Regions from separate parts of the Homo sapiens genome. Here all the other regions are linked to region 1. Evidence: fine-mapped expression QTL. A gene starts in region 1. Each other region holds a variant in brackets. All regions are shown on one strand. Distances are between the middles of the regions.

Region 1 (5,174 bases):
AAAAATACAAAAATTAGCCGGGCATGGTGGCGGGCGCCTGTAGTCCCAGCTACTCGGGAGGCTGAGGCAGGAGAATGGCGTGAACCTGGGAGGTGGAGCTCGCAGTAAGCCGAGATGGCGCCACTGCACTCCAGCCTGGGCAACAGAGCCAGACTCCGTCTCAAAAAAAAAAAAAATTATTTGTAGAGACAGGGTCTCATTATGTTGCCTAGGCTGCTCTCAAACTCCTGGAATCCAGAGATCCTCCTGCCTCGGCCTTCCAAAGTGTTGGAATTACAGGCATGAGCCACCACACCTGGCCCTTTCCTACTTTCCATGTTTAAATATTCAAGAATCAATTGCTTTTTTTCATGGCAGCCTGTATGTGTTCAGTAGGCATAATACCTTAACAAATTTGAAGATACTAATACTTACTTTAAAGCTTTCTTTTGTCTTACATTAGCTCCACTGCTTCAGTGCCTAGTTCTGTATTTGTTTGGTCTGAAGCTTCTCTTAGATGCTACCGATTTCCCACAAATGTTTAGTGATTTTTGTTGTGTGTTCACATTATAAATGTGCTAGTAGTATCTCAGTCCATATGAAAATCACTGTACTCCTGCTGTGAATTCACATTTGTAACTAGCCCTATAATTCAATTTTACACTTATACCTAGTGCTTGTGTAGCATGACAATAACAATGTAAGTTCTTTGACTTGCAGTCCCGTGATTCTTCAATCCACTTTCAGTCATATCCTTTTGGTATTTCATTTCCTCTAAAAAACCACTAACTTGAGTAATACAGTTCTTAAGTAAATGTTATGCTAAACTTCAGAGTCAGATCCTCACCAGCTCTAACAGACTTGTCTAACAGTTAAACAAACAATGACAGTCCGACAGAAGACAGTCATAAATGTGCAATTCAAAGGGTAAATAATAACATGGTAATGAATGAATCACTTACGTCTTGAACTCATAATAGTTATGCTTTTTTAAAACCAACCTTGAATGTTATATTAGTTAAAATAACAAATTCTATTACATTAAAAAAAAGATGACTCCATGTTGGTTAAATTTTCTGCCTTTGGTTGGTAATGGTATGGTTGGTAATGACTCCATGTTGGTAATTTTCTGCTTATGCCATGACTCAGTCATTCTATAGCTGACAGAAATGCATACAGATGCTCACCAAGACATTTAATTTACAAGAATGTCCACAGTACTCTTTTTTTTTTCTTTTCTTTTTGAGACCGAGTCAGGCTCTGTCGTCCAGGCTGGAGTGCAGTGGCACGATCTCGGCTCACTGCAACCTCCACCTCCCGCCTCAGCCTCCCAAGTAGCTGGGCTTACAGGCGCCCGCCACCACGCCTGGCTAATTTTTGTATTTTTAGTAGAGATGCGGTTTCACCATGTTTGCCAGGCTGGTCTCGAACTCCTGACCAAGTGATCCACCTGCCTCGGCCTCCCCAAGCGCTGGGATAAAAGGCCTGAGCCACCACGCCAGGCCCACAGTATTCTTAATATCCAAAACACATCATATACAAAAATTGGGAACATAAATGTCCATCAACTGAAGAGTAGTCACATATTATTCAATAGACTATTACACAGTAATAATACAATACCATGAAATAGCATGGGTGTGTCCCACAAACAATATGCTGAGAATACTACGTGATTCCATTAACATGAAGCTCAAAACAGAGAAAACTAAAAGCAGATAAGAGAAGTTAGAATACAGATGGGAAAACAAGGATATAACTGACTTGGAAGAAGCACAGGAAAATAGGATGATGGAAATGTTCTATGGTTATAATTTGATATATCTGGTGGTTCCACAGGGTAATAAGTATGTAAAAATTCATTGAGCTGTACAATTAAGATTCGTGCTCTTATTGATTTCATATGTATTTTATGCCTCGACAAAAACAAAGAGAAAAATGCAGCTTCTAAACTGGTTGGAACTGTGTTTATTTAGGCCAAAATCCTCTGAGCCACAAATACTGGAAATCCATCTTTTTTCATTCTTTTAGTTACATGACAACTTTAAACAAATGGTACAAGAACAATAATACAAAATGAACGCTAACACTCAGTCCTAAAATACTTGGCTTCTTACTTCCAAGATCGAAGCTACTATTTTAATACAACATTCAAAAAACAACATTAATTACCAGACATGAAGGCCCTGCTCCCGCGAGCCTTGAATGACGGTGAAACGTCACGACATCCCATATCTATCTCAAAAGCACGCTAGAAAATACCTCCAAGTTTAACAAGCCAAGGACTCAGGAAGAGAAGCTTCAGATGTATAATCAAACTATCATACCGCCAATACCATCATCACAAACAGAAGTATCACTGTCGTGCTTCCTGCGTTGCTCAAGGGTAGAGTCATTTTTAAGGTGCATTCTCCGACAACGCCAGAGGCTCCCCATCTCCTCCGCCCCACTGAGCCCTCCACGACAGAGCATCTTTACCGGCGCTCGCTCTGCCATCTACAGATAAAGAGGGGCTGAGGGCAGAACTATTTTAACGCGATGACGAGGTCACCACTGATTAAAAAGTTTATCCACTGAGAGGAGCAGAGATGGTGATGAATAGGTAAAAACAAAACGAAACAAAACAAAACCCAACACTGACAAGCGAACCAATCGTCTCTGGCCGCGCTTTCCCTAAAACCGGTGCCGACTCCGGCAGGCTCATCCCTGAGAGACAGGGCCCCCCGCAGGACCGGTCCGCTAGGCGACCCCACCCGACCACACAGGAGCCCGCAGCCCCGGCGCCCGCACCGCCCGGGCCGGAGCCGGCGGGAGTCGCGGACCGGCGGGCGAGGCCGGGCCAGGTACTCACCGCGCTCGCCCGCTCTGCGCTCCACCGCCTCCTGCGCCGCGGGGACACCCGGGCGGCGCCTCACGCCTTGGGCCCGCCGCCGCCTCAGCCACCCACCCCCGGGCGCGCCGCCGCGCCTGAGAGGCCACTTCCGGCGCGCGCGAGGAAATGAAGCCGCCGCGCGCCCGCGGCCCCGCCCAGGAAGCTCCGCCACTGGCAGCTGGGTACCGATTCATCACCGACGTGTTTAAAGTATCCGTGTGTGTGCCTCCAAAAACCGTTTGTGGAGACAGCAGAGTGCCCGAGGCAGGAAACCGCTCCGGCCTGGAGGCGCCCCTGCCCGGACTCGTGGACTGCAGCGCTGTCCCGCTCGGAAGCCGATCCTGGGAGTCCGAGCGGGGCCGCGGGGCCTGCGTGGCAGCCGAGTCGAGGGCTTCGGGCCGCGGGGCTGTGGAGCGCCCCTTGGCGCTGGGCCGCCGGCAGCCGTGAGCGCATCACTGCATTTCCCTGGAGGAATTCCTCATCTGTTGAATGAGGGAGTTGAGGCGGACACGCTGGGAAATGGCTTCGAGCTCACACACTGATTTTCGTGAGTGGAAAGAGAAGCCCTTTCTTAGGCGTCTTCCATACCACTGCATGTTCCAGGGTCCTCCCTGGGCTCTCTGTCTCCCACGCCACCGCGAGCACGGCCTAAGCGGGCGAGCGAAGGCGCGACGGCGCCGAGAGCCGGCTGTGGTGGGTGCCGGGCGCGTCACCGCGGGCTGGCGGGGGAGGGGACGCTGGGAAGCTCTCCAGAAAGAGGAGCCGCCACCGAGCAAATTCCCATCTGCCACGCACCGCAGAGCCTCGCCCTCCGCCGCCAGCATTTTCTTTCTTTGTTCTCCTAGCCCTACAAACGCTGGGTTTCCTTTCTCATTCGTGGACTTTTTTCCCTGGATCCTTCTTACTGCTCCTACCCTGTGGCCGCACGTCTGGCAGATGCGCGGCGGGCGCTGCCTGAACCCCCGAATCCTCACAAGCCTCTGTGCAGCGGCCACGGCCCTCAGCTAGCGGCGGGGAGACTGAAGCCGCAGGGTCAGGGTTAGTTGCCACATGTTTTAAATTCCTATCCAAACTTCCATTATAATTGTTTTTATTTATTTATTCATCTATTTTTTGAGACAGGGTCCCGCTCTGTCGCCCAGGCTGGAGTGCAGTGGAGCGATCACGGTTCACTGCAGCCTCCCCACCTCCGACTCCAGCGATCCTCTCGCCTCAGCCTCCCGAGTAGCTGGGACCACAGGTGCATGCCACCATGCCCGGCTAATTGTTAATATTTTTTTTGGTAGAGATGGGGCCTCCCTCTGTTGCCTAGGCTGGCCTTGAACTCCTGGGCTCAAGCGATCTTCCAGCTTCGGCCTCCCAAAGTGCTGGCATTACAGGCGTGAGTCACCCCGCCTGGCAAGAATTGTTGTTTTGAAACTAACTGAGGTTCTCCCATCAATGGATTTAAATTGTTACTTTTTAATGATTTTTTTTTAAGTAGCCAAATACTAAATGTATGTAATTTGAATGTGGAGAGAAGATAATGCATGATTCAAATTATGTGGCTGATCATGGGTGATACACTGGGATATAGTTGTAAAATAAGTAGTTCTCCTAGGGAAAATATTAAAGTACAACTGTGTTGGGTTTAATATCAGAAAAATGTAATTAAAAACATTTCCTGCCAATAATTTCCAATCTGATACTTAAACAAAACAAAACAATAAAAGTTTCCCATCTCTTTCGGGCCTTTTAAATTTCTACCAAAAGTAAGTGATGCTGGCTGATTCCCCTGCTATAGCAAGTTGTGAATAAATAGCCTTTGCTGGTTTCCACAGTTTTCCTGGTGATCCCATGGTAAGTCTGTACTGCTTGTCCCTGAGGTCCCCAGGCTTCCACCCATTGTGCCACCCAGAGGCCCCTCATGCCTCCATGTTCTCGGCCTATCAGGTGCGCCGATGTGGTCAGCACTAGGGCTCACCTCACTCTGCGTGGAGGTCTCTGGCTATTTATTCTCAGTTTGGTACTCTGGTTTTGTTATTGATTCTCATTTGTCTGGCATCTCTAGTGGAATCAGGCCATTCTTTTTATCCCTTTTCACTGTATTTTGTGTTAGTGTTTAGTGTTGTGCTGTCAAAAAGTGCTGCTTGTCATAAGAAGGAAAACCGTAGGAAAGGACACAGGCATGGGGCTCATAAGCCTCTTGTTTGAGCCAGCCTCGCAGCTCATGATTTAGCAGTTCTCATCACACCGGCCTCTACTTGGAGAAACTTTGCTGTGGGTTTCCAGTAAAACTGAATGAGGTTCTCCTTCCGTCTCGCTTTCATGTCCTGAGAGACAC
Region 2 (5,174 bases), 120 kb before region 1:
CTGGTGAGGGGTGTCTAGACACAAGTGGGCCCAGGGTGGGCATGCAAATCATCACCAGTGTGTCAGCGAGGCTTGGAGGGGTCAAGAGTCCTGCTGGTGCTGATAACGAGAAGTGGCCAGTCCAGGGTGTGAACCCAGGCCTCATGGCTCCTCCCTCTTGCTGTGACCTCTGGAGCCATGTGAGGGATTCTGCAAGGTGCTGCTCACCCTCACCCCCACCTGAGAGATGGACTCAGGCAGAACCATTGGAGAGTGGAAAGTTGACCTGGGGAGAGATGTCGGATCACAACCTCACCCACTGCAGGCCATGCACGCCAGGCATGGCCCAGACTCTGGGAGTGCAGACACAACCTAAAAATAGACAGAAATGAGCCTAATGATTCTGGAAGGAGGGAGAGGTGCCAGGAGGGAGCGATGAAGGCAGCCACCCTGGGAAGGCCAGGTTTGGGCAAAACCATGAAGGGAGGAAGGGGGTTTCCGGTTGTAGAGGAAACAGCTGGGCCCCAAGATGGACTCCTGCCGGCAACCAGGGAATGGCAAGAAAGTCGGGGAACAGAGGCCCGGGGTTTCATGCCACCTTCACGGCTCATCTGTGTCTGTGTGCAGATGGCGCGAGTGGGGGCACTGCTCTGTGGCTGTGGTGTGCGCTGGTCCACACCAGACACATCCTCAGCCCCAACGTGGAGAGAACCAGGGACGGGAGACTGTGTGGGGGAAGCGGCTGAGGTCCAGAGTCGCACTGAGTGTGCAGTGCCCTGGAAGCCGAGAGAGGTAGCCCATGCATTACAATGTGGGCAGGGATCCTGGAGAGGCCACTCTGGTCTGCGTATTTGACCTGCTGCACCTCACTTTCTTCACCCACCTCCCTTGGCTATTGATTCACCACCCCCTCCACCCCCAACCAGCCCTTTCTTTCCCTGAGGTTCCTGTTCCTGTTCTTCTTTCTGCCTGTGACAAGCCGCTCAGCCCTTGTCCCATCTCTGAGCACATGGTCCAGGGAGGACACAGCCAGTCACAGCCGGATCAAGAACCAAGCTCCGCACTGGCTGCCTGGATGCAGGCTGCTGTGTGTTCTGGGTAGGGGTTGGGGGACTCCAGCAGCACCTGCCGCACCTGCCCCCGCCTGGCTTGCCTTGTCCTGGCTCCAGGCCCCCTCAGCATCCTCACTCCACCTGTGGCTTGTGGGGCACAGTGTGGCCAGGACAGTCATTAGCATGGGCTCCCTAAAGTCAGTTCACTCTGGGTCCCCTGGGGGCCTCCTCCTGCACAGTGCTCCCCCTAGGCTGGGGATGGCCTCTGTCTAAACACTATGGTAGCTCTAGGGGGCAGGAGAGAGCAGTCAAGCTGAGAGGGCCTCCCTGATCACAGGCGTGCAGCTTTAGCATTGTTGGCAACCAGGGGAGGAAGGAGGGCATCGGAGAAGCCCAGACCACACTGCACCCCCACTCTAGACTGGTGCTCCTCTGGGGGAGTGGGGTGCCAGTGGGCAGACAGCGCCAGGAGCCAGCCCAGAGAAGCCAAGGGTGACAGGTGCCCAGGAATGGCCACACACCCACCACCTGGTGGTCCTGAGCCAACACTTGTGCCTACTCCCACCCCAGCACCCCCAGCCCTGGCTCCAGGGTTCCCCTGACATGGGAGTCTGGGTTTTGGTTTTAACTCTGGCCCTGACCAGTGTCCTGTGTCCTTGGACAGACACTTCCGGTTTCTGGCCTCAGTCTGTGCTGCTATGAAATGCCAGTGACACTCCTCACCTCCTCAGAGTGGTGGCTGCAGAGGGTACATGGCAGAGCTGTGATGTTCCTGTCCTGCTCCAGGTGCAGGCTCTGGGCAGGGCTGTGAGACAAGGAGTGAGGAGTGTGCCTGCCCCCAGAGCTTGCAGCCTAAGAGGAGGTGGGGGCAGCTGTCCCCAGCCTTTGGATGAGGGTGCAGCCCTGGGGCTGGGTCAGGACAGTGGTCAGCTCTCTCACCTCAGCCTGCCCCACTGTCCAGGATATCCTGGAGCCGTCCAGGCCCAGATGGCAGTGGGTGGGGCAGGAAGGAGCGATGCTGAGTGGGCAGCCTAGGCGGGCAGGGCTGGGCGGCTTGGCCTAGGTGGTGTGAG[G/A]GGCCTGGAGGGCGCTGGGGCCTGGGTGGGGCCGTGCAGCATAGTGACTTTGGGAGATTTCCTGGATCCTGCTGTCCTTCCTGCTGGGCATTCCCACTGCAGCCAAGCCCGACACCGGCTGGAGGGGCTGGGCTGGTGGGGCTGGACTCTGCCAGGCAGAGACCAGGTGGTGGCTGGGGCTTCCCGGAGGTGCTGGAAACCCCACACTTCCCGGTTTCCTCTCCAGATGCCTGGGAATGGGGAGCCTCTGCCCAGGAGGAAAGTCCCCAGTGTTCCCAGCCGAGTGTGTCAGGAGTGCGGGGATAGAGGGGCCTCCAGTGGGCCCTGGGGCTACCAGCTACACAAGGAGGTCCCAATGTCAGACCCAATGGAGTCACTGGTGTCATTGCTTGTGTGCCATAAAGGGACTGTCTCCTTTGTTCCCTCCCTTTAGTCAGGGATTATTCTGGGGACCCTAGGAGGAGCCCCTGCTTGGACCCCTGCTTGGAGCTCATCCCACAGAGACCCGTTTTACCTCTGAGCTACAGCAGCGGTTTCCATCCTTGCCTGTGACCACAGAGACTTGCTCAGGGAGCACAGCCTTATGGACTCCCAGCCCCCACCTAGCCCCCACCCAGCCTTCTGCCAGCAGCTGAGGCCCAGAGGCCGGGTGTCACTGCGCTGTGACCTGAGTGTGAAGGTGTCAGTTCCGGGCCCTGCAACAGTAGACCAGGTCCGGGGGCGGGGGTTAGCGGTGCAGCCGTGAGGCCCGAGGTGGAGAGGGCAGGCAGGACCAGCAGGAAGAGCACAGCCCACAGGGCTGGAAGGTCTGGGCCAGGCCCAAGGAGCTTGAAGGATAGGTGCCTGTTAGGAAACCCGTGCCCTCAGCAGGAGGGCCAGTGCCCCACCACACAGATCTAAGGGGGCAACAAGTGGAGGCCGCCAGCACTGGGGGGGTCTACCTACATGGCCCCTTGCAGCCCTCCATGGCCCCACAGCTGTCCTGGTGCCACTGGCACATTGCAGTTCCCAAGAGGACCCTGAAGGCCCCCTCTGTTTGTCTCCCGCCCTCCCTGAAGTGTCCTGGCTCCAGGGTTTCCTGCAGGGGATATTTTCCTGCAGCCCACTTCCTTGCACAGCTGGGGTCACAGAGCACAGCCCTGGTGGGAGGCCATCCACCGAGCACTGGGCCTGGCATGTGAGTCTCCGTCTGCCCTCTGTGGGCCTGAGGGTGGGGAGGATGGTGCCAGACCCCATGGGGAGGCAGGCCTGCCCCAGGCCCAGCTTAGGGGCACTGCCGGGTGAGCCCTAGAGGGGTCCTGCCCCTGTGGTCTGTGCCTGTGGCCAGCCGGCTGGTGCTCAAAGCAGGGTGGGCTGCCCCTGCCTCTTATTGCTGCTGCAAAAAAGTCCCACAGATGGAGCTGCTTCCGCACCACATGCTTCTTATCTCGGCCAGTAGGTCAGAGGCTGGGTCGGGTCTTAGGGGCTGAGGTCAAGGCGCTGGCCGGCCTGCCTCTTCGGAGGCTCCAGGCAGAATCGTGGTCACGCAGGTGTCTGTTGGTAGAATCTCATTCCTTGAGGTCCCCGTCCCCTGTGGGATGTTGGCCCCTGAGGGCCCCTAGAGCCCCCTCTGGGCCTTGTGTGAGGCTCCCTACAGCTCCGAGCCAGCCACAGGTGTTGGGTCCCCTGACGCCACCATCTCCCTGACCCTGTCTTGTCCTCACACTTTCTCTGACTGCAGCGGGGAAAGATTCTTCAACTTTAAGGACTTGTGAATACAATGGGCCCACCCAGGAGAATCTCCCAGCAGCCTTAAGAGCCTCTGCCTAATTACACCTACAGAGTCCCTTTTGCCGAATACGGGAACATTCCCAGGTTCTGGAGATCAGGCTGTGGGCATATTTGGGGGCCATACCCACTCTTGAGAGCCTAATCCCTCACATGAGGTGAGCAAGGCAGCCCTCCCCGGGGATTTGGGAGTTTACAGTCTGGGGAGCTACAAGGACCTCAAATCCACACACGGGGTAGTTTGGAGGTTGTGGCACCCGCTGAACACATCAGGATGAGGTGGTGGGGGGTGTGGGGTGGGTGTCAGGAAGGCTGGACCTGGCCAGGCCCCTCCTGCAGGTGGCCTTGCTACGGTGGGCGTGGAAGTGTGTGGGGGCACCCCCGCCTGTGGGCCCTCCCTGGGCTGGGTGTGCACAGCCCCTTTGTCTGGGGCATGGACAGAGGAGACCATGGGGGTTTGCCCACGATGGGCTCCTTTGAACTCGCTGGTCCTGAAGGCGTGGGGTGCGGTGCTCTGTGAGGAGAGCTGGGGTTGTTGGCAGCAGATTGTGGGTTCCAGTGGGGTGCGGACGATGAGTGCCAGGGTGCAGGGGAGCGGTTAGTCCCAGTGGGTCTGTGTCGAGGGTGAGCAGGAGGCACAGGGTCCTCTCTCGGGTGCTGCCTCCCGCCGCGAGCCAGTCACTGGGTGTGCAGCAGAGGGAGCCTGCAAGCCTCTGTGGAGGGGCTCTATTGCCAGTGGGAGTCAGGTGAGTTTGGCAGCCGAGCCCTGAAACCGGGTCCTCTGTCTGTGCTAAAAAGCCCCTGAGCTTAGGACATGTGAGGGGAAATCAGACCTTCAGAAAAGAAAGTGCACTGTGTCTGCCTCACAGTCACGTCCCCTCCCTTCCTGGGAGTCCATGGCTAAGCAGAAGTCAAGGGCCTGGCCAGGCAGTTGGGTTTGGAAGACAGAGTCACTGACTACCCATTAATGCCCTGCCCTTCCTTCCCAGGCAGGCCTGCCTACTAGAAAGAGCTGCTGGATGCCGAGCCCCGGCCTGTCCCGCAGCCCCGTAGCCCACCCCTTCCTCCCTGCCTTCCAACTCCAAGTGCCTGGCCAGGCCCTTGACTCCTGGCCTGGTTCCCCTGCCCACCTAGTCCTGGCTGTGGAGAGGTGGGTGTGCTGGTCTGTCTGCTCCTTCTGGGGTGCACTGCTCTGTGTCCCACCTGCTGACACCCTTGAAACTAAAGATGTGTCCACGATGTGGAGTGTGCCTGTGTATGCACACCCATGTGGGTGGGTGGCAGTACCGTGCACACACAGGAG
Region 3 (5,174 bases), 34 kb before region 1:
TTTATGTGACTGATTAAGGATCACATGCACTTATGTTATTAAATCCTTACAAAACAAATAAAAATAGAACTCAAAGCCTGTACAAGGTGCAAGCTGAGGTTACTAATTATCATTGTGGTGCCTGACTTCAAGGGGCTTACATTCTAGGACAACAGTTGCATAAACAAATTGTAACACACAGGATCAACCTTACACAGTAGACTTTATCTGGTGCCTACCCAGTATCCATTCCCCCAACCCCCTTCCTGATTGGTACAGTTTTGTTCTGGTAATTACCTGGCCCTGGGCAGCCCATGAATTCAGGGAAGCTGCTGTCACCAGTAGATTCGGAGTGGGCCATGAGTCTCTATACTAGTGAGACAGTCTCACCCCACTTACCATAGTGGCTCACTTACTTACTGGCTCACTAATAGGTATTTAAAAAAAAATCAGGCCAAGTAGGTAAACCAGGGTGGTTGTTGGGAACTTTGGAAAACAAAGCTCCTTCGTTCTTCTAAGAGACTCACTAGAAAGGACATTTGGTCGTAGGGCAGGGTCAGCAAACGATGGCCTCTGGCTAAATCTGGCCTGCTGCCTGCTTTAGTAAATAATTTTAGTGGAACGTAGTTGTGTTGATCTGTTTACAAATTGTCTATGGGTGCTTTCACAGTGCAGTGGCAGAGTTGAGTAGTTGCAGCAGAACTGTATGGCCTATAAAGATTAAAACATTTCTTATCTGGCTCTCTACAGAAAACATTTGTTGACCTCTAGTGCACGATGCAGCTATGAAGCTTGGAACTGCCAAAGTCCTTTTCTACCATGCGAGAAACCAGCTTTAATATGAGGCTGTCACCACTTAAGTCTAAGTAGAGAAAGAAATATAAAACCAGGGCATTGATGACACTGAGTCCTTGGAATCACTTCTGCTTACAAGTTGAAGCCTGATAAACCTTTTATTTTATTCATACTTTCAACAAGTGTTTAATCTTTTGGATATGGTTCTAGTAACTGAGGCTTAGCAATAAACAGAGGTGACAAAGTCCCTGCCATCAAAGCGCCTTTGTTTGGGTGGGAAAATAGTAAATAAATAAATATACATTTTAGGTGGTGATACATGCTACAAAGAAAAGAGGCAACAGCTATAACTAGGGATGGGAAGCTGCTAGTCTAGTGTGTGCTACTGTGGTATGTACCAAAAGCAAAAGAGTGTATGGATGTGGAATGTGGAAAAGATTTAGGTCAGAGACTTCACAGAAGTCAGCAAGTGATTGAATGGGCAGGAGTGGGGAGTGAAGGAGAAGGATCAACCAAGATGACAGCAGGCTTCCGTCCTGAACAGTGGGTATGTAATGGTGCTATCCCTAAGATGAAGCCCAGGGGAAGGGCCAGCCCAGAGAGGAACAACATGGAGTTGGTTCTGGCCATAATGAATCTGAGTGATCTGTAAGGCACCTACACAGAAATTCCTGCAGATAGCAGGAATATCAAGGTCTGCAGAGGTGACAAATTTTGAGAAGAGTGGGCACAGTCTGAAATTGCTGCTGTACAGAATAGGAGAATCAACAGGAAAACACATAATGAACCAGGCAGCCCTGAGGGCTCAGCTCAGATTGGAGCTGATGGATGAGTTTGGCATTTTTCTTTTCAATTTTTTTTTTTTTGAGCTGAGGGGGAGAACTTCTTCCCCTTCTAGAATGTAAAGCTCCCTGAGGGGAGGACTTGTGGATTCTGTTCACTGCTATATTCCTAGCACCTAGAACAATGCCAGGCACATGACAAGCTTTCAATAAATACGTGTTGAATAAATAAATATATAGAGAGACATAATTTTAGTGGCAAAATGAAGACTAGACTCTATTATTATTATTATTTTGAGACAGAGTCTCACTGTGTTGCCCAGACTGGACGGCAGTGGCACAATCTTGGCTCACTGCAACCTCCAGCTCCCAGGTTCAAGCGATTTCCGTGCCTCAGTCCGCTGAACAGCTGGGATTACAGGTGTGCGCCACCACACCTGGCTAATTTTGGTATTTATAGTAGAGACAGGGTTTCACCATGTTGGCCAGGCTGGTATCGAACTCTTGACCTCTGGTGATCCACCCACCTCGGCATCCCAAAGTGCTCGGATTACACGTGTGAGCCACCACTCCTGTCTCTAATATTCTTATCTCTTTGTTAAAATATAACCCTGATACAAAGTATTAAAAAGCAAAACACCCACTTTGACATCTCTACACCATGCCAATTCTGATTATATAAGTACTATAACTTTGTAACTTAGTTTCTCTAAAAATTCTTCAAATATTATCAGACTTGGAAAAAGGAATCATTGGTTTGATTTTTAAAGCAACACATTTTCACAAAGGAAAGTAGAAGGAAACTCAAATTGTCCATAATCCTTATTGTTAATATTTTCTTGCACTGTTTTATCTGGCCTCCTAAGCATGTGGGAGATGCAGTTATCCACACATAACCTATATACCCAAGCCTTGGCCTCTCACAGAATGCCAGATCCCTGTAGCCAACTAGCAATTTGGCACCTCCCCTTGGATGTCTGATAAACAACACATGGCTACTATGGCTCCAGTTGAATCCCAATCTCTGCTCTCCCATTCCTTTCCTTTGCTAATTTCCTACATCTAATCCAACAGCAAGCTCTGTCAGCCCTATCTCTGAATCATATCCAAACCTTTCTCCGTAATTATAATACACTGTCACCCAAGCCACAATCATCTCCCCTTGTCTACTGTGAAAGCCTAACTGGCTGCTGCCAGCCAGAGCCACACACAATCCATTCTCCCTCCAAAGGCTTTCCAACATACTTAGCATAAAATCCCAATGCCTTCCAGAGGCTGAACAAGCTCTACATGCCCTGGCCCAGCTATGTGCCCCTCACCGGCTGTGCTCCAAACACCCTAGGAAACCCAGTAGCTGTTCTTTCTGCCTGAAACCACTATCCCCCAATCACAGCCTAGCTGGTTCTTTCCTGTTCTTTGGACAGCTCTGCTCAGCTTCATCTCAGAAACACCTTTCTGACCAAACAAGCCACAGAAACCACGGAGTCACTCTTTGCAACTCAGTCTGTTTTAATGATCCACGTGGCATGCATTATCTGATTTTACTTTCT[G/A]TCACCTCCTAATAAATAAAGATCCTCACGAGCAACAGCCATATCTGTTAGGGTCTAAGTGTCAGGGTGCCAGTGGTGGATAGTGCGTGGCATCAAAGGGACCCTCAATATTTGATGAATTAATATAACAGAGGCAGTGTGCACAGTGGACAGGAGTGGAGGCTGCGGAGCCACATCACCCAGCCTCCTGGGCCTACTCAGGCCAGTGTGTACTTGGACAGGCACTCGACTGCAGCACAGCTGTGAAAAATGGGGCAGTAATACTACATACCTCAGAGGTTGTTAGGAGGATTAAATGAATTAATGTGTAGGCAAAACAGAACAAGTACCCTGCACATAGTAAGGGGTTCATAAAAATATTAGCTATTATCATCATTTAAATGTTACCTAAAATATAGATACGCTATTTCCCGCTTTTTAGCTTTACATTTTCCTCTTCATTTACACGGCTGTATTTACATTTTTCACATTTTCCTTGATATGCAATATTCACCAGAGAATGTACCATAATTCAATTTATCCTTTTATTATTAGAGTTTTGCTTGCTTTTAATGTTATCAATTTATGCATATTACCATCATGTAGCTCGATTACTTCCCCAGGAAAGACTGTTGGGGGTGGAAATTACTGGATCAGAGGGATGAATCTGTTTAGAACTCGACTCAGAGAACTGGCCTGAATCCCCAACAGAAGCGACGGAGGAGCTCCCATCCCCCAGTCTTGCTCACATGGCTTTGCTTTTTAAAAGCAGTGACCTAACAGCAGAAACAAAGCATTATACTGCTGTTCTAAATTATTCCTAGTAAGGCTGACTATTTAAATATGTGAATTATCAACTGTCTTACCCATTTTTTTCCTTCTTATTTACTTCTAATATAGCTTTAAACATCAAGGAAAACAAGTTTTTGTCTTTTAAGTGAGGAGACTGAAGCTTAGAAAAGTTAAGCAACTTGCAAAGGTTACAAGTGGTGAAACTAGAACTTGAAGTGCTTAAACTTAAGTTGCTATGCAACACCTAGAATGAATCAGCATTCAAATCATTCTTCCCCTACAACCCTCCAAACCAGGCAAGAATATTAGCATGCTTTGGCCGGGTGCGGTGGCTCATGCCTATAATCCCAACACTTTGGGAGGCTGAGGCCAGCAGATCACAAGGTCAGGAGTTCGAGACCAGTCTGGCCAACATGGTGAAACCCCATCTCTACTAAAAATACAAAAATTAGCTGGGCGTGGTGGTGTGTGCCTGTAATCCCAGCTACTTGGGAGGCTGAGGCAGGAGAATCGCTTGAAACGGGAAGGTGGAGTTTCCAGTGAGCCAAGATCATGCCACTGCACTCCAGGCTGGGCAACAAGAGCGAAACTCCATCTCAAAAAAAAAAAAAAAGAGTATTAGCATGCTTTTACATTCCCTTCACGCTTCTATGTTGACTTTATTTGCCTCTTTTTGTTTTAATTAATTTTAATATACAACCTTTTATTTTGGAATAATTTTAGATTTACAAAGAAGTTGCAAAACAGTAAAGAGAGTTCCTGTATACCCCTCATCCAGTTTTAGCTTCCCCTAATGTTATCATCTTACATTGTTGTGGTACATTTGTCAAAACTAAGGAACCATCATTGCTATATTACTATTTAACTCAACTCCAGATTTCATTTGGATTTCACCAGCTTTCCCTTTACTGTCTTTTTTTTCTATTCTAGGACCTAGTCCAGGGCACCACATTGCATTTGGTTGTCATGTCTCCTTAGTCTCCTCTTGGCTATGATGGTTTCTCAGTCTTGTTTTTGGTGACCCTGACAGTTTTGAGGAAGAATGGTCAGGTATTTTGTACAATGCTCCTCAATGTGGGCTTGCTGCAGCTTTCCCTGTGACTTTCCTGGGGAAGTTATCTACGTTTTTGGAAGAGGACTGTGAGCTAAAGTGTCCTTCTCATTATGTCATGTCATGGGTACATGGTATCCCTTGGTTAAGGTGTCTGCTGGGTTTCTCCCGTGAAAAGTTTGTTTTTTCTTTCCATACTATGTTCTTTGAAAGTGAGTCCCCTAGTTCCACCTACTGGAAGAGGGA
Region 4 (5,060 bases), 22 kb after region 1:
AGCGGGCCTGGGGGCGGAGAGAGGGGGCCCTGGGCGTGCGGGTCAGGCAGCTTGGGTCTTCCAGGAGCCAGGGGTGGGAGGCCGCAGGGTCCCCAGGCCCGGCCACCCAATGAGTAAGGGGGTGGACACAGCCCTGCCTCAGGCAGCACTGCTGCAGCTCTGTGGAGAGCGCAGACCTTGAAGCCTCAGCTTTCTCTTGAACCACTTGCTCTCTGCCTCCTGCTGCTCGTGTGGGTGCCTCCTTCTCGAGGTGCCTGAGGCAGGCGACACTGCCCTGGGAGGCACCCCTCCCTGATGCTAGGACGCCAAGCCTTTTTGCCTCCTGGGTCCTGCCCCAGTGCAGGCTGGGGATGCTGATGGAGGCAGAGGCCTGCGCAGATGCAAGGGTTCCTGCCTGGCGCTGGGCTCTGCACACAGCCTGCTCCCTGTTCCCACCTGTCCTGTCCCAGGCCCAGCCTCCAACTCTACTGGTGCCGACCACAGTGCCTGCTGCGCACTCCCGGTGTTTGGGTTCCCTATCCCTCTCGCACACACCCACACACGCATGCTGGGAAGCCCCTGAGCAGCATGGTGGTTTGGAAAACCAACAAACCAGGCTGGTCTCCTGGGTCTTTATCTGAGAAATGGTGACAATGTTCCTGCCATGCAGGGCGGGGCTGGGGTCACCTGAGGTCACAGCACACCTGGTGCCCTGTGGTACCCAGGGTACCCTAGTACCCAGGATGCACTGTCCATTCCTAGAGCTCCCTGCCCCACGGGCCCAGCCCCGAACTGGGTGAGGACACATGGCAGTGTCACACCAGAGACCTCTGAGTAGCCCTGTGGGCCCAGGGAGTGCCGCTAGCGCGGGGCCCCTCTGATGGAAAGTGACCACTCAGCCCGTGGACTCAGCTAGACACAAGCTCCAGGCTGGGGCCTGAGCCAGGCTTCCAGAAAGAGGGAGAACAGGAAACAGGGCAGGAGCAGTAGGGAAAGGGAGAAAGAGGGAGAACAGGGCTGTATGGAGCCCCCAGCCTGGGTGCAGTGGCTGCCCACCTCACCCTGCAGCTGGCCTTACCATCCTGGCTGCAGGCCCCATACAATTTGATGACATGTGGGTGGTTGACCTGCTTCAGGACGTTGAACTCTGACAGCAGGTCTCGCAGCTCACTCGGGGAGGCGTTCTCTGAAATGCAGCACAGAGCAGGTTGCAAACGATCGCTCCTGGAAGCCCCTTCCATGACCATACCAGGTCAGGATGGACCTGCATCGCCTTGCCCAAGTTCAGACAGAGAGGCCTGCAAAGACGATGCTGCTTGAGGCTTCTCCCAGCCTTTGGGATCAGTGGACAGGGGCCTCATCCACCCTGAGGAAGAAGCACCCTGAGGAGCCAGCAACCACACATGCCGGATCTTTCCCCAGAGTGTCCCAGGGCTGGGCCACCTGTGTATGTGGCATTATGTTCCTGTAGTCATTGTCTTTAGAAGACAGTCGTCCACAGAAATTCCCCGCATTAATCATTCTGGAAAGGTGAGGGGTACCCACACACCCACTTGTCGGGAGAGGCCCTGGAGAAGGTGGAGAGCCATAAAGGAGGTCCACACACCGCGACCAGGCTCCCCATTTCCCGCTCCTGTCTGAGATGGCCAGCCTGGAGCCCAGGCATCTCCTGTGCTGCTGATGTATCCGTCACACACACGTCAGCAGCTCACACTCCGTTAGTTACCAAGAAGACCCACATTAGCACCTGAGATAAAGCAGTGTTACCAGTGCACTGCACACCTGACATTCTGGCTTATTCTTAATGAATAGCATGATTCCCCAGAGAGTCTAACTGTAGAGGCATGATGGAAACAGGACGAGGCACCACAGGGATCACCTGCCCAGCACATGCGTCCCGATGGTGGCCAGAGCTGTGCTGGAATGCCCAGCAGGTGCCTGGGCCTGAAGGTATTCCAAGAGTCAGAACACATGGCTAAGCCATCCCTCCCAGGTCAGCTGTCCCACTGCCCAGCTGTGCCGTGCCACCTCCTCTGTCCTGAAAGGTTGTCTGGAAGGGAGAGGACAGTTGGGAGTTGGGGCCCCAGGACCCCTTGGACCAGGTGTGGGCAGCCTGGGGCTGTGCATGGCTGCAATGGAAATCCAAGGGTCTCCCTGTGCCCCTGGAGAGTCCGGGGTTTTACTGGCTTGGAGGTGAACCCAGTCTGGGGCTGGGTAGGCATCTGGAAGCACCCTGTGCTGTGCAGCCCCCGACTACTGCAGATAATTGTTATGTACACCAACCACTCTCCCTCACCGCCATTCAGCCTGGCTGTTCACAGGGCTGGGGCCTGGCCACAGAAGAGGGGGCTACTCAGTGCAGTCGCATGCCTGTGTGGGTAGGTGCATGTGCCCATCGAGAGCCAAACTTGTGGCATGACTGGGCATGCAGGCCAGACAGGCCCATGGGGGTCTCTTGAGATTGAGGGCCAGTCCTTACTGGTGGTCTCTTCACCAAGACCCCAGGAGACACTGGGCTGAGAGGAATGAATGGGGCAGACTGGAGTGAAGACAGCTGTCAGCTCAAAATCAAAGGGCTTTTTAAATGTTTAAAGCTTAGATCTTCAGTGGCACTGGCACAGCAACACCTCTAGAGCCTTCCAGGGAGAGCAAAGTCCTCGCTCTGCTTCTCTAGGCCCAAGTGGCCCATGGTAGGGGTCCCCCAACTGCAGCCGCTCTAGAACAGCATTGGGGGCTCTTCAGGGTCCCATGCTGGGCAGGAGGGGCCTCACCCGCCCCCCGCCCCGGAGACTCCCCCAGGGGCACTGTGCCTGTGCCTGGCAGGTACCTTTCAGCATCTTCACGGCCACCGTGGTGTACCCTGCTCTGCCTTTCAGATGGAAGGCCGTTGCCTTGACCACTTTTCCAAATTCGCCTTCTCCTAGAGTTTTTCCAAGAACCAAGTTCTTCCGAGGGAATTCCCACTTTGGATCCTCCTATGTTGGAAATGAGGGAAGGGGGAGAAGAGGGGGGAAAAGTGTGAGGATGACAGGGGAGGAAGAAGGCAAGACCCTTAAAGGAGGCCCCATGGACAAGTTCCAATGTGCAGAGAACCGGCTGTCATCTGAGCCAGCGGCAACGCTGCCTGTCTCTGCCCTGGGC[A/G]GGACCCCACAGCCAGGCCCCTGAAAGCTGCTACATGACAGGTGTGGTCACAGCATGGCTTGGACTCAGTACTTCGACCCTCTCTGGTTCCTGGTCTACTGTCTCCCCTGACCCCTGCCCCAGGACTAAATGAGCACCAGGCCCAGCCCAGGACCTCTGACTACAGTGGAAGTGTCCAGGACAACTTCTCTACATAGCCACCCCTGCAAAGAAAGGCGCCACCATGTTCCGCCTCAGAGTGTGGAAGCACTGCTCCTCAAGGGCTGCCACTGGCCCTCACGCACCCGCTCACCCTGCCTGCTGGCACTACCACCCTGCCCTCCCACCAAAGTTCTATCCACACATTGGGCCCACTTGGGACTGCTCCGGATGCCTTCCCAGACCCCCACCCTGGCCCCCAGTACTTGAACTCTGACCAGGGAGGCCAAAGCCTGCCATGATCCAGGAACCCTCCCTTGATGTGCCAGCTCTGGGCATCCGTCACCCCAGGTCTCCTGCTCCTGGGCTGTCCTGGTCTGGCCCCACATTCCCTGGGAACCCACAGTCAAGGTCAGTGTCGACACTGCCATGGCTTCCCTGCCGCTGTCACCTCCACAGCTGGCACTGGAAACCTGTTTACCACACTCTAGAGACTGCAATAAGCACATGAGGGCGACATCAACCTGATCCTCTCAAATACTGAGGTTGAGTCATGGGTCCAAGACCTGGTGCTGATGAGTGTGACTCTGGAGCTGACTGGGGTTAGGGTGGTGGTCTCTGCCAGCAGCAGCCCAGACCAGTGCGGCCTTCCTGGGCAGCCTCACACAAACCCACTGGGTTTATGAAGGACTCTGGTGGCTCATCCTAGAGCCCTGCCATGAGGCTAAGCTGCAGCCAGGCCAGGATGGGGACCACCAATTAGGAAAGCTGGTGGGGAAGCGGCAGTGGCCACATCTGGGAAGGCCTCCTTGGCTCACACCCTTACCGAGGGCTGGGTGTTGCCTGAACGGAGGCTCCAGGGCCGAGGCCTCAGGCTGAGCTGCACTGTGGGATATGGCCCCTCCCAGGAATCCCAGGCCACCTCCCAGCCTGAGATGGGAACTGCCAGGGCCCTGTGGCCACTGGGTGCTCAGCTTCCTCCCTGGAGGCTCCTGCCGAGGAGCTATTCACGCCACCATAAGCTGCGTGGCTCACCGTTCACTCACACCCTTGGCTCTGAGCCTCTGTTACTTCCAGAACTGGGCTTGGCTTCCAGCGCCCTGGACAGTGCTAGTAGGAACACTGAAGGGGCAGGCCACCACCAGGAGAGGGCAGAGGCCTGCCTGGCCGGGACAAGGAGGCTCCAGGATACTCGGCACAGCCTGGAGGCTCTGAGTAGCACATGCAGACCTGCAGGCCAGGCTCCCCAGAAAGGCACCCCCTTCTGACTTCAGTGCCCCTCCATCCACACTGCTGCTCCCCTGCCCGATGCTGTGACCCTGACCACTGCCTCTCACCTAGATGGGAACGGCACCTCATCACAGTCCCACCCCACAGACTGTCCCCACACAGCGCCCTATGGAAATGGGGGCAGAACACAGGCCTCGTCTGCCCAGCGTTGGCAGCCCCTCACAGGATGGCCTCTGTCTCCCCAGCTGGCCTCCCTCCCTGGAAGGCAGCTGGGGAGGGCAGGGGATCTTCCCTGCCCCGCAGGGACCCTCACCAGGATCTTGAAGGCATCCACGGAGACCTGGTTCTCCATGGAGTCCAGCGAGGGCCGGCGGGCACCGGAAGAGGAGTAGCTGACCGGGAAGGCCTGGGCGGGCCTCCGGAAGGTCATCTCAGCTGAGGAGATGGGTGGCTTGTGGGCAAACTTGTGGTAGCAGTGGATGCAGAAGGCAGACAGCAGCACCGAGACGATGAAGGAGAAGAGGACAGCGGCTGCGATCACCGTGCGGCACAGCTCGTCGCACAGTGGATCT

Alleles and levels. Alleles are on the strand shown, and positions count from the first base shown. SD is a standard deviation of normalised expression in the study named. Not every link is listed here.
For the expression in monocytes after R848 of the gene that starts at base 2,953 in region 1, allele A in region 3 goes with a lower level than allele G (large effect, 0.92 SD a copy in Quach 2016).

What was found. PIP is the estimated chance that this variant, and not a neighbour inherited with it, causes the effect.
Region 2: its variant is the best candidate, but not a certain one, in a credible set for the expression of CSGALNACT2 in whole blood (INTERVAL, PIP 0.79).
Region 3: its variant is the best candidate, but not a certain one, in a credible set for the expression of CSGALNACT2 in monocytes after R848 (Quach 2016, PIP 0.54).
Region 4: its variant is the best candidate, but not a certain one, in a credible set for the expression of CSGALNACT2 in putamen (GTEx, PIP 0.78).

What each region holds. Positions count from the first base shown.
Region 1 is chr10:43,136,224-43,141,397 of GRCh38, reverse strand. It overlaps CSGALNACT2 (chondroitin sulfate N-acetylgalactosaminyltransferase 2), which reads right to left and starts at 2,953. Exons shown (of 8, transcript NM_018590.5): 1 at 2,831-2,953. It overlaps CSGALNACT2-DT (CSGALNACT2 divergent transcript), which reads left to right and starts at 3,005. Exons shown (of 1, transcript NR_186456.1): 1 at 3,005-4,574. RefSeq lists silencers at 2,417-2,486, 2,597-3,096, 3,267-3,326, 3,457-3,656.
Region 2 is chr10:43,252,180-43,257,353 of GRCh38, reverse strand. The region is part of intron 1 of RASGEF1A (RasGEF domain family member 1A); the gene reads left to right. Among named protein-coding and RNA genes, the nearest start is that of RASGEF1A, 12 kb to the left of the region's middle. RefSeq lists a silencer at 1,217-1,406. The variant G/A (reference allele first, on the strand shown) is at 2,105.
Region 3 is chr10:43,170,671-43,175,844 of GRCh38, reverse strand. All of the region lies in intron 6 of CSGALNACT2 (chondroitin sulfate N-acetylgalactosaminyltransferase 2), which reads right to left. Among named protein-coding and RNA genes, the nearest start is that of CSGALNACT2, 35 kb to the right of the region's middle. RefSeq lists an enhancer at 2,811-2,980. The variant G/A (reference allele first, on the strand shown) is at 3,107.
Region 4 is chr10:43,114,478-43,119,537 of GRCh38, reverse strand. It overlaps RET (ret proto-oncogene), which reads right to left. Exons shown (of 20, transcript NM_020975.6): 11 at 4,802-5,058; 12 at 2,807-2,954; 13 at 1,058-1,165; 14 at 1-7. Among named protein-coding and RNA genes, the nearest start is that of CSGALNACT2-DT, 21 kb to the left of the region's middle. The variant A/G (reference allele first, on the strand shown) is at 3,121.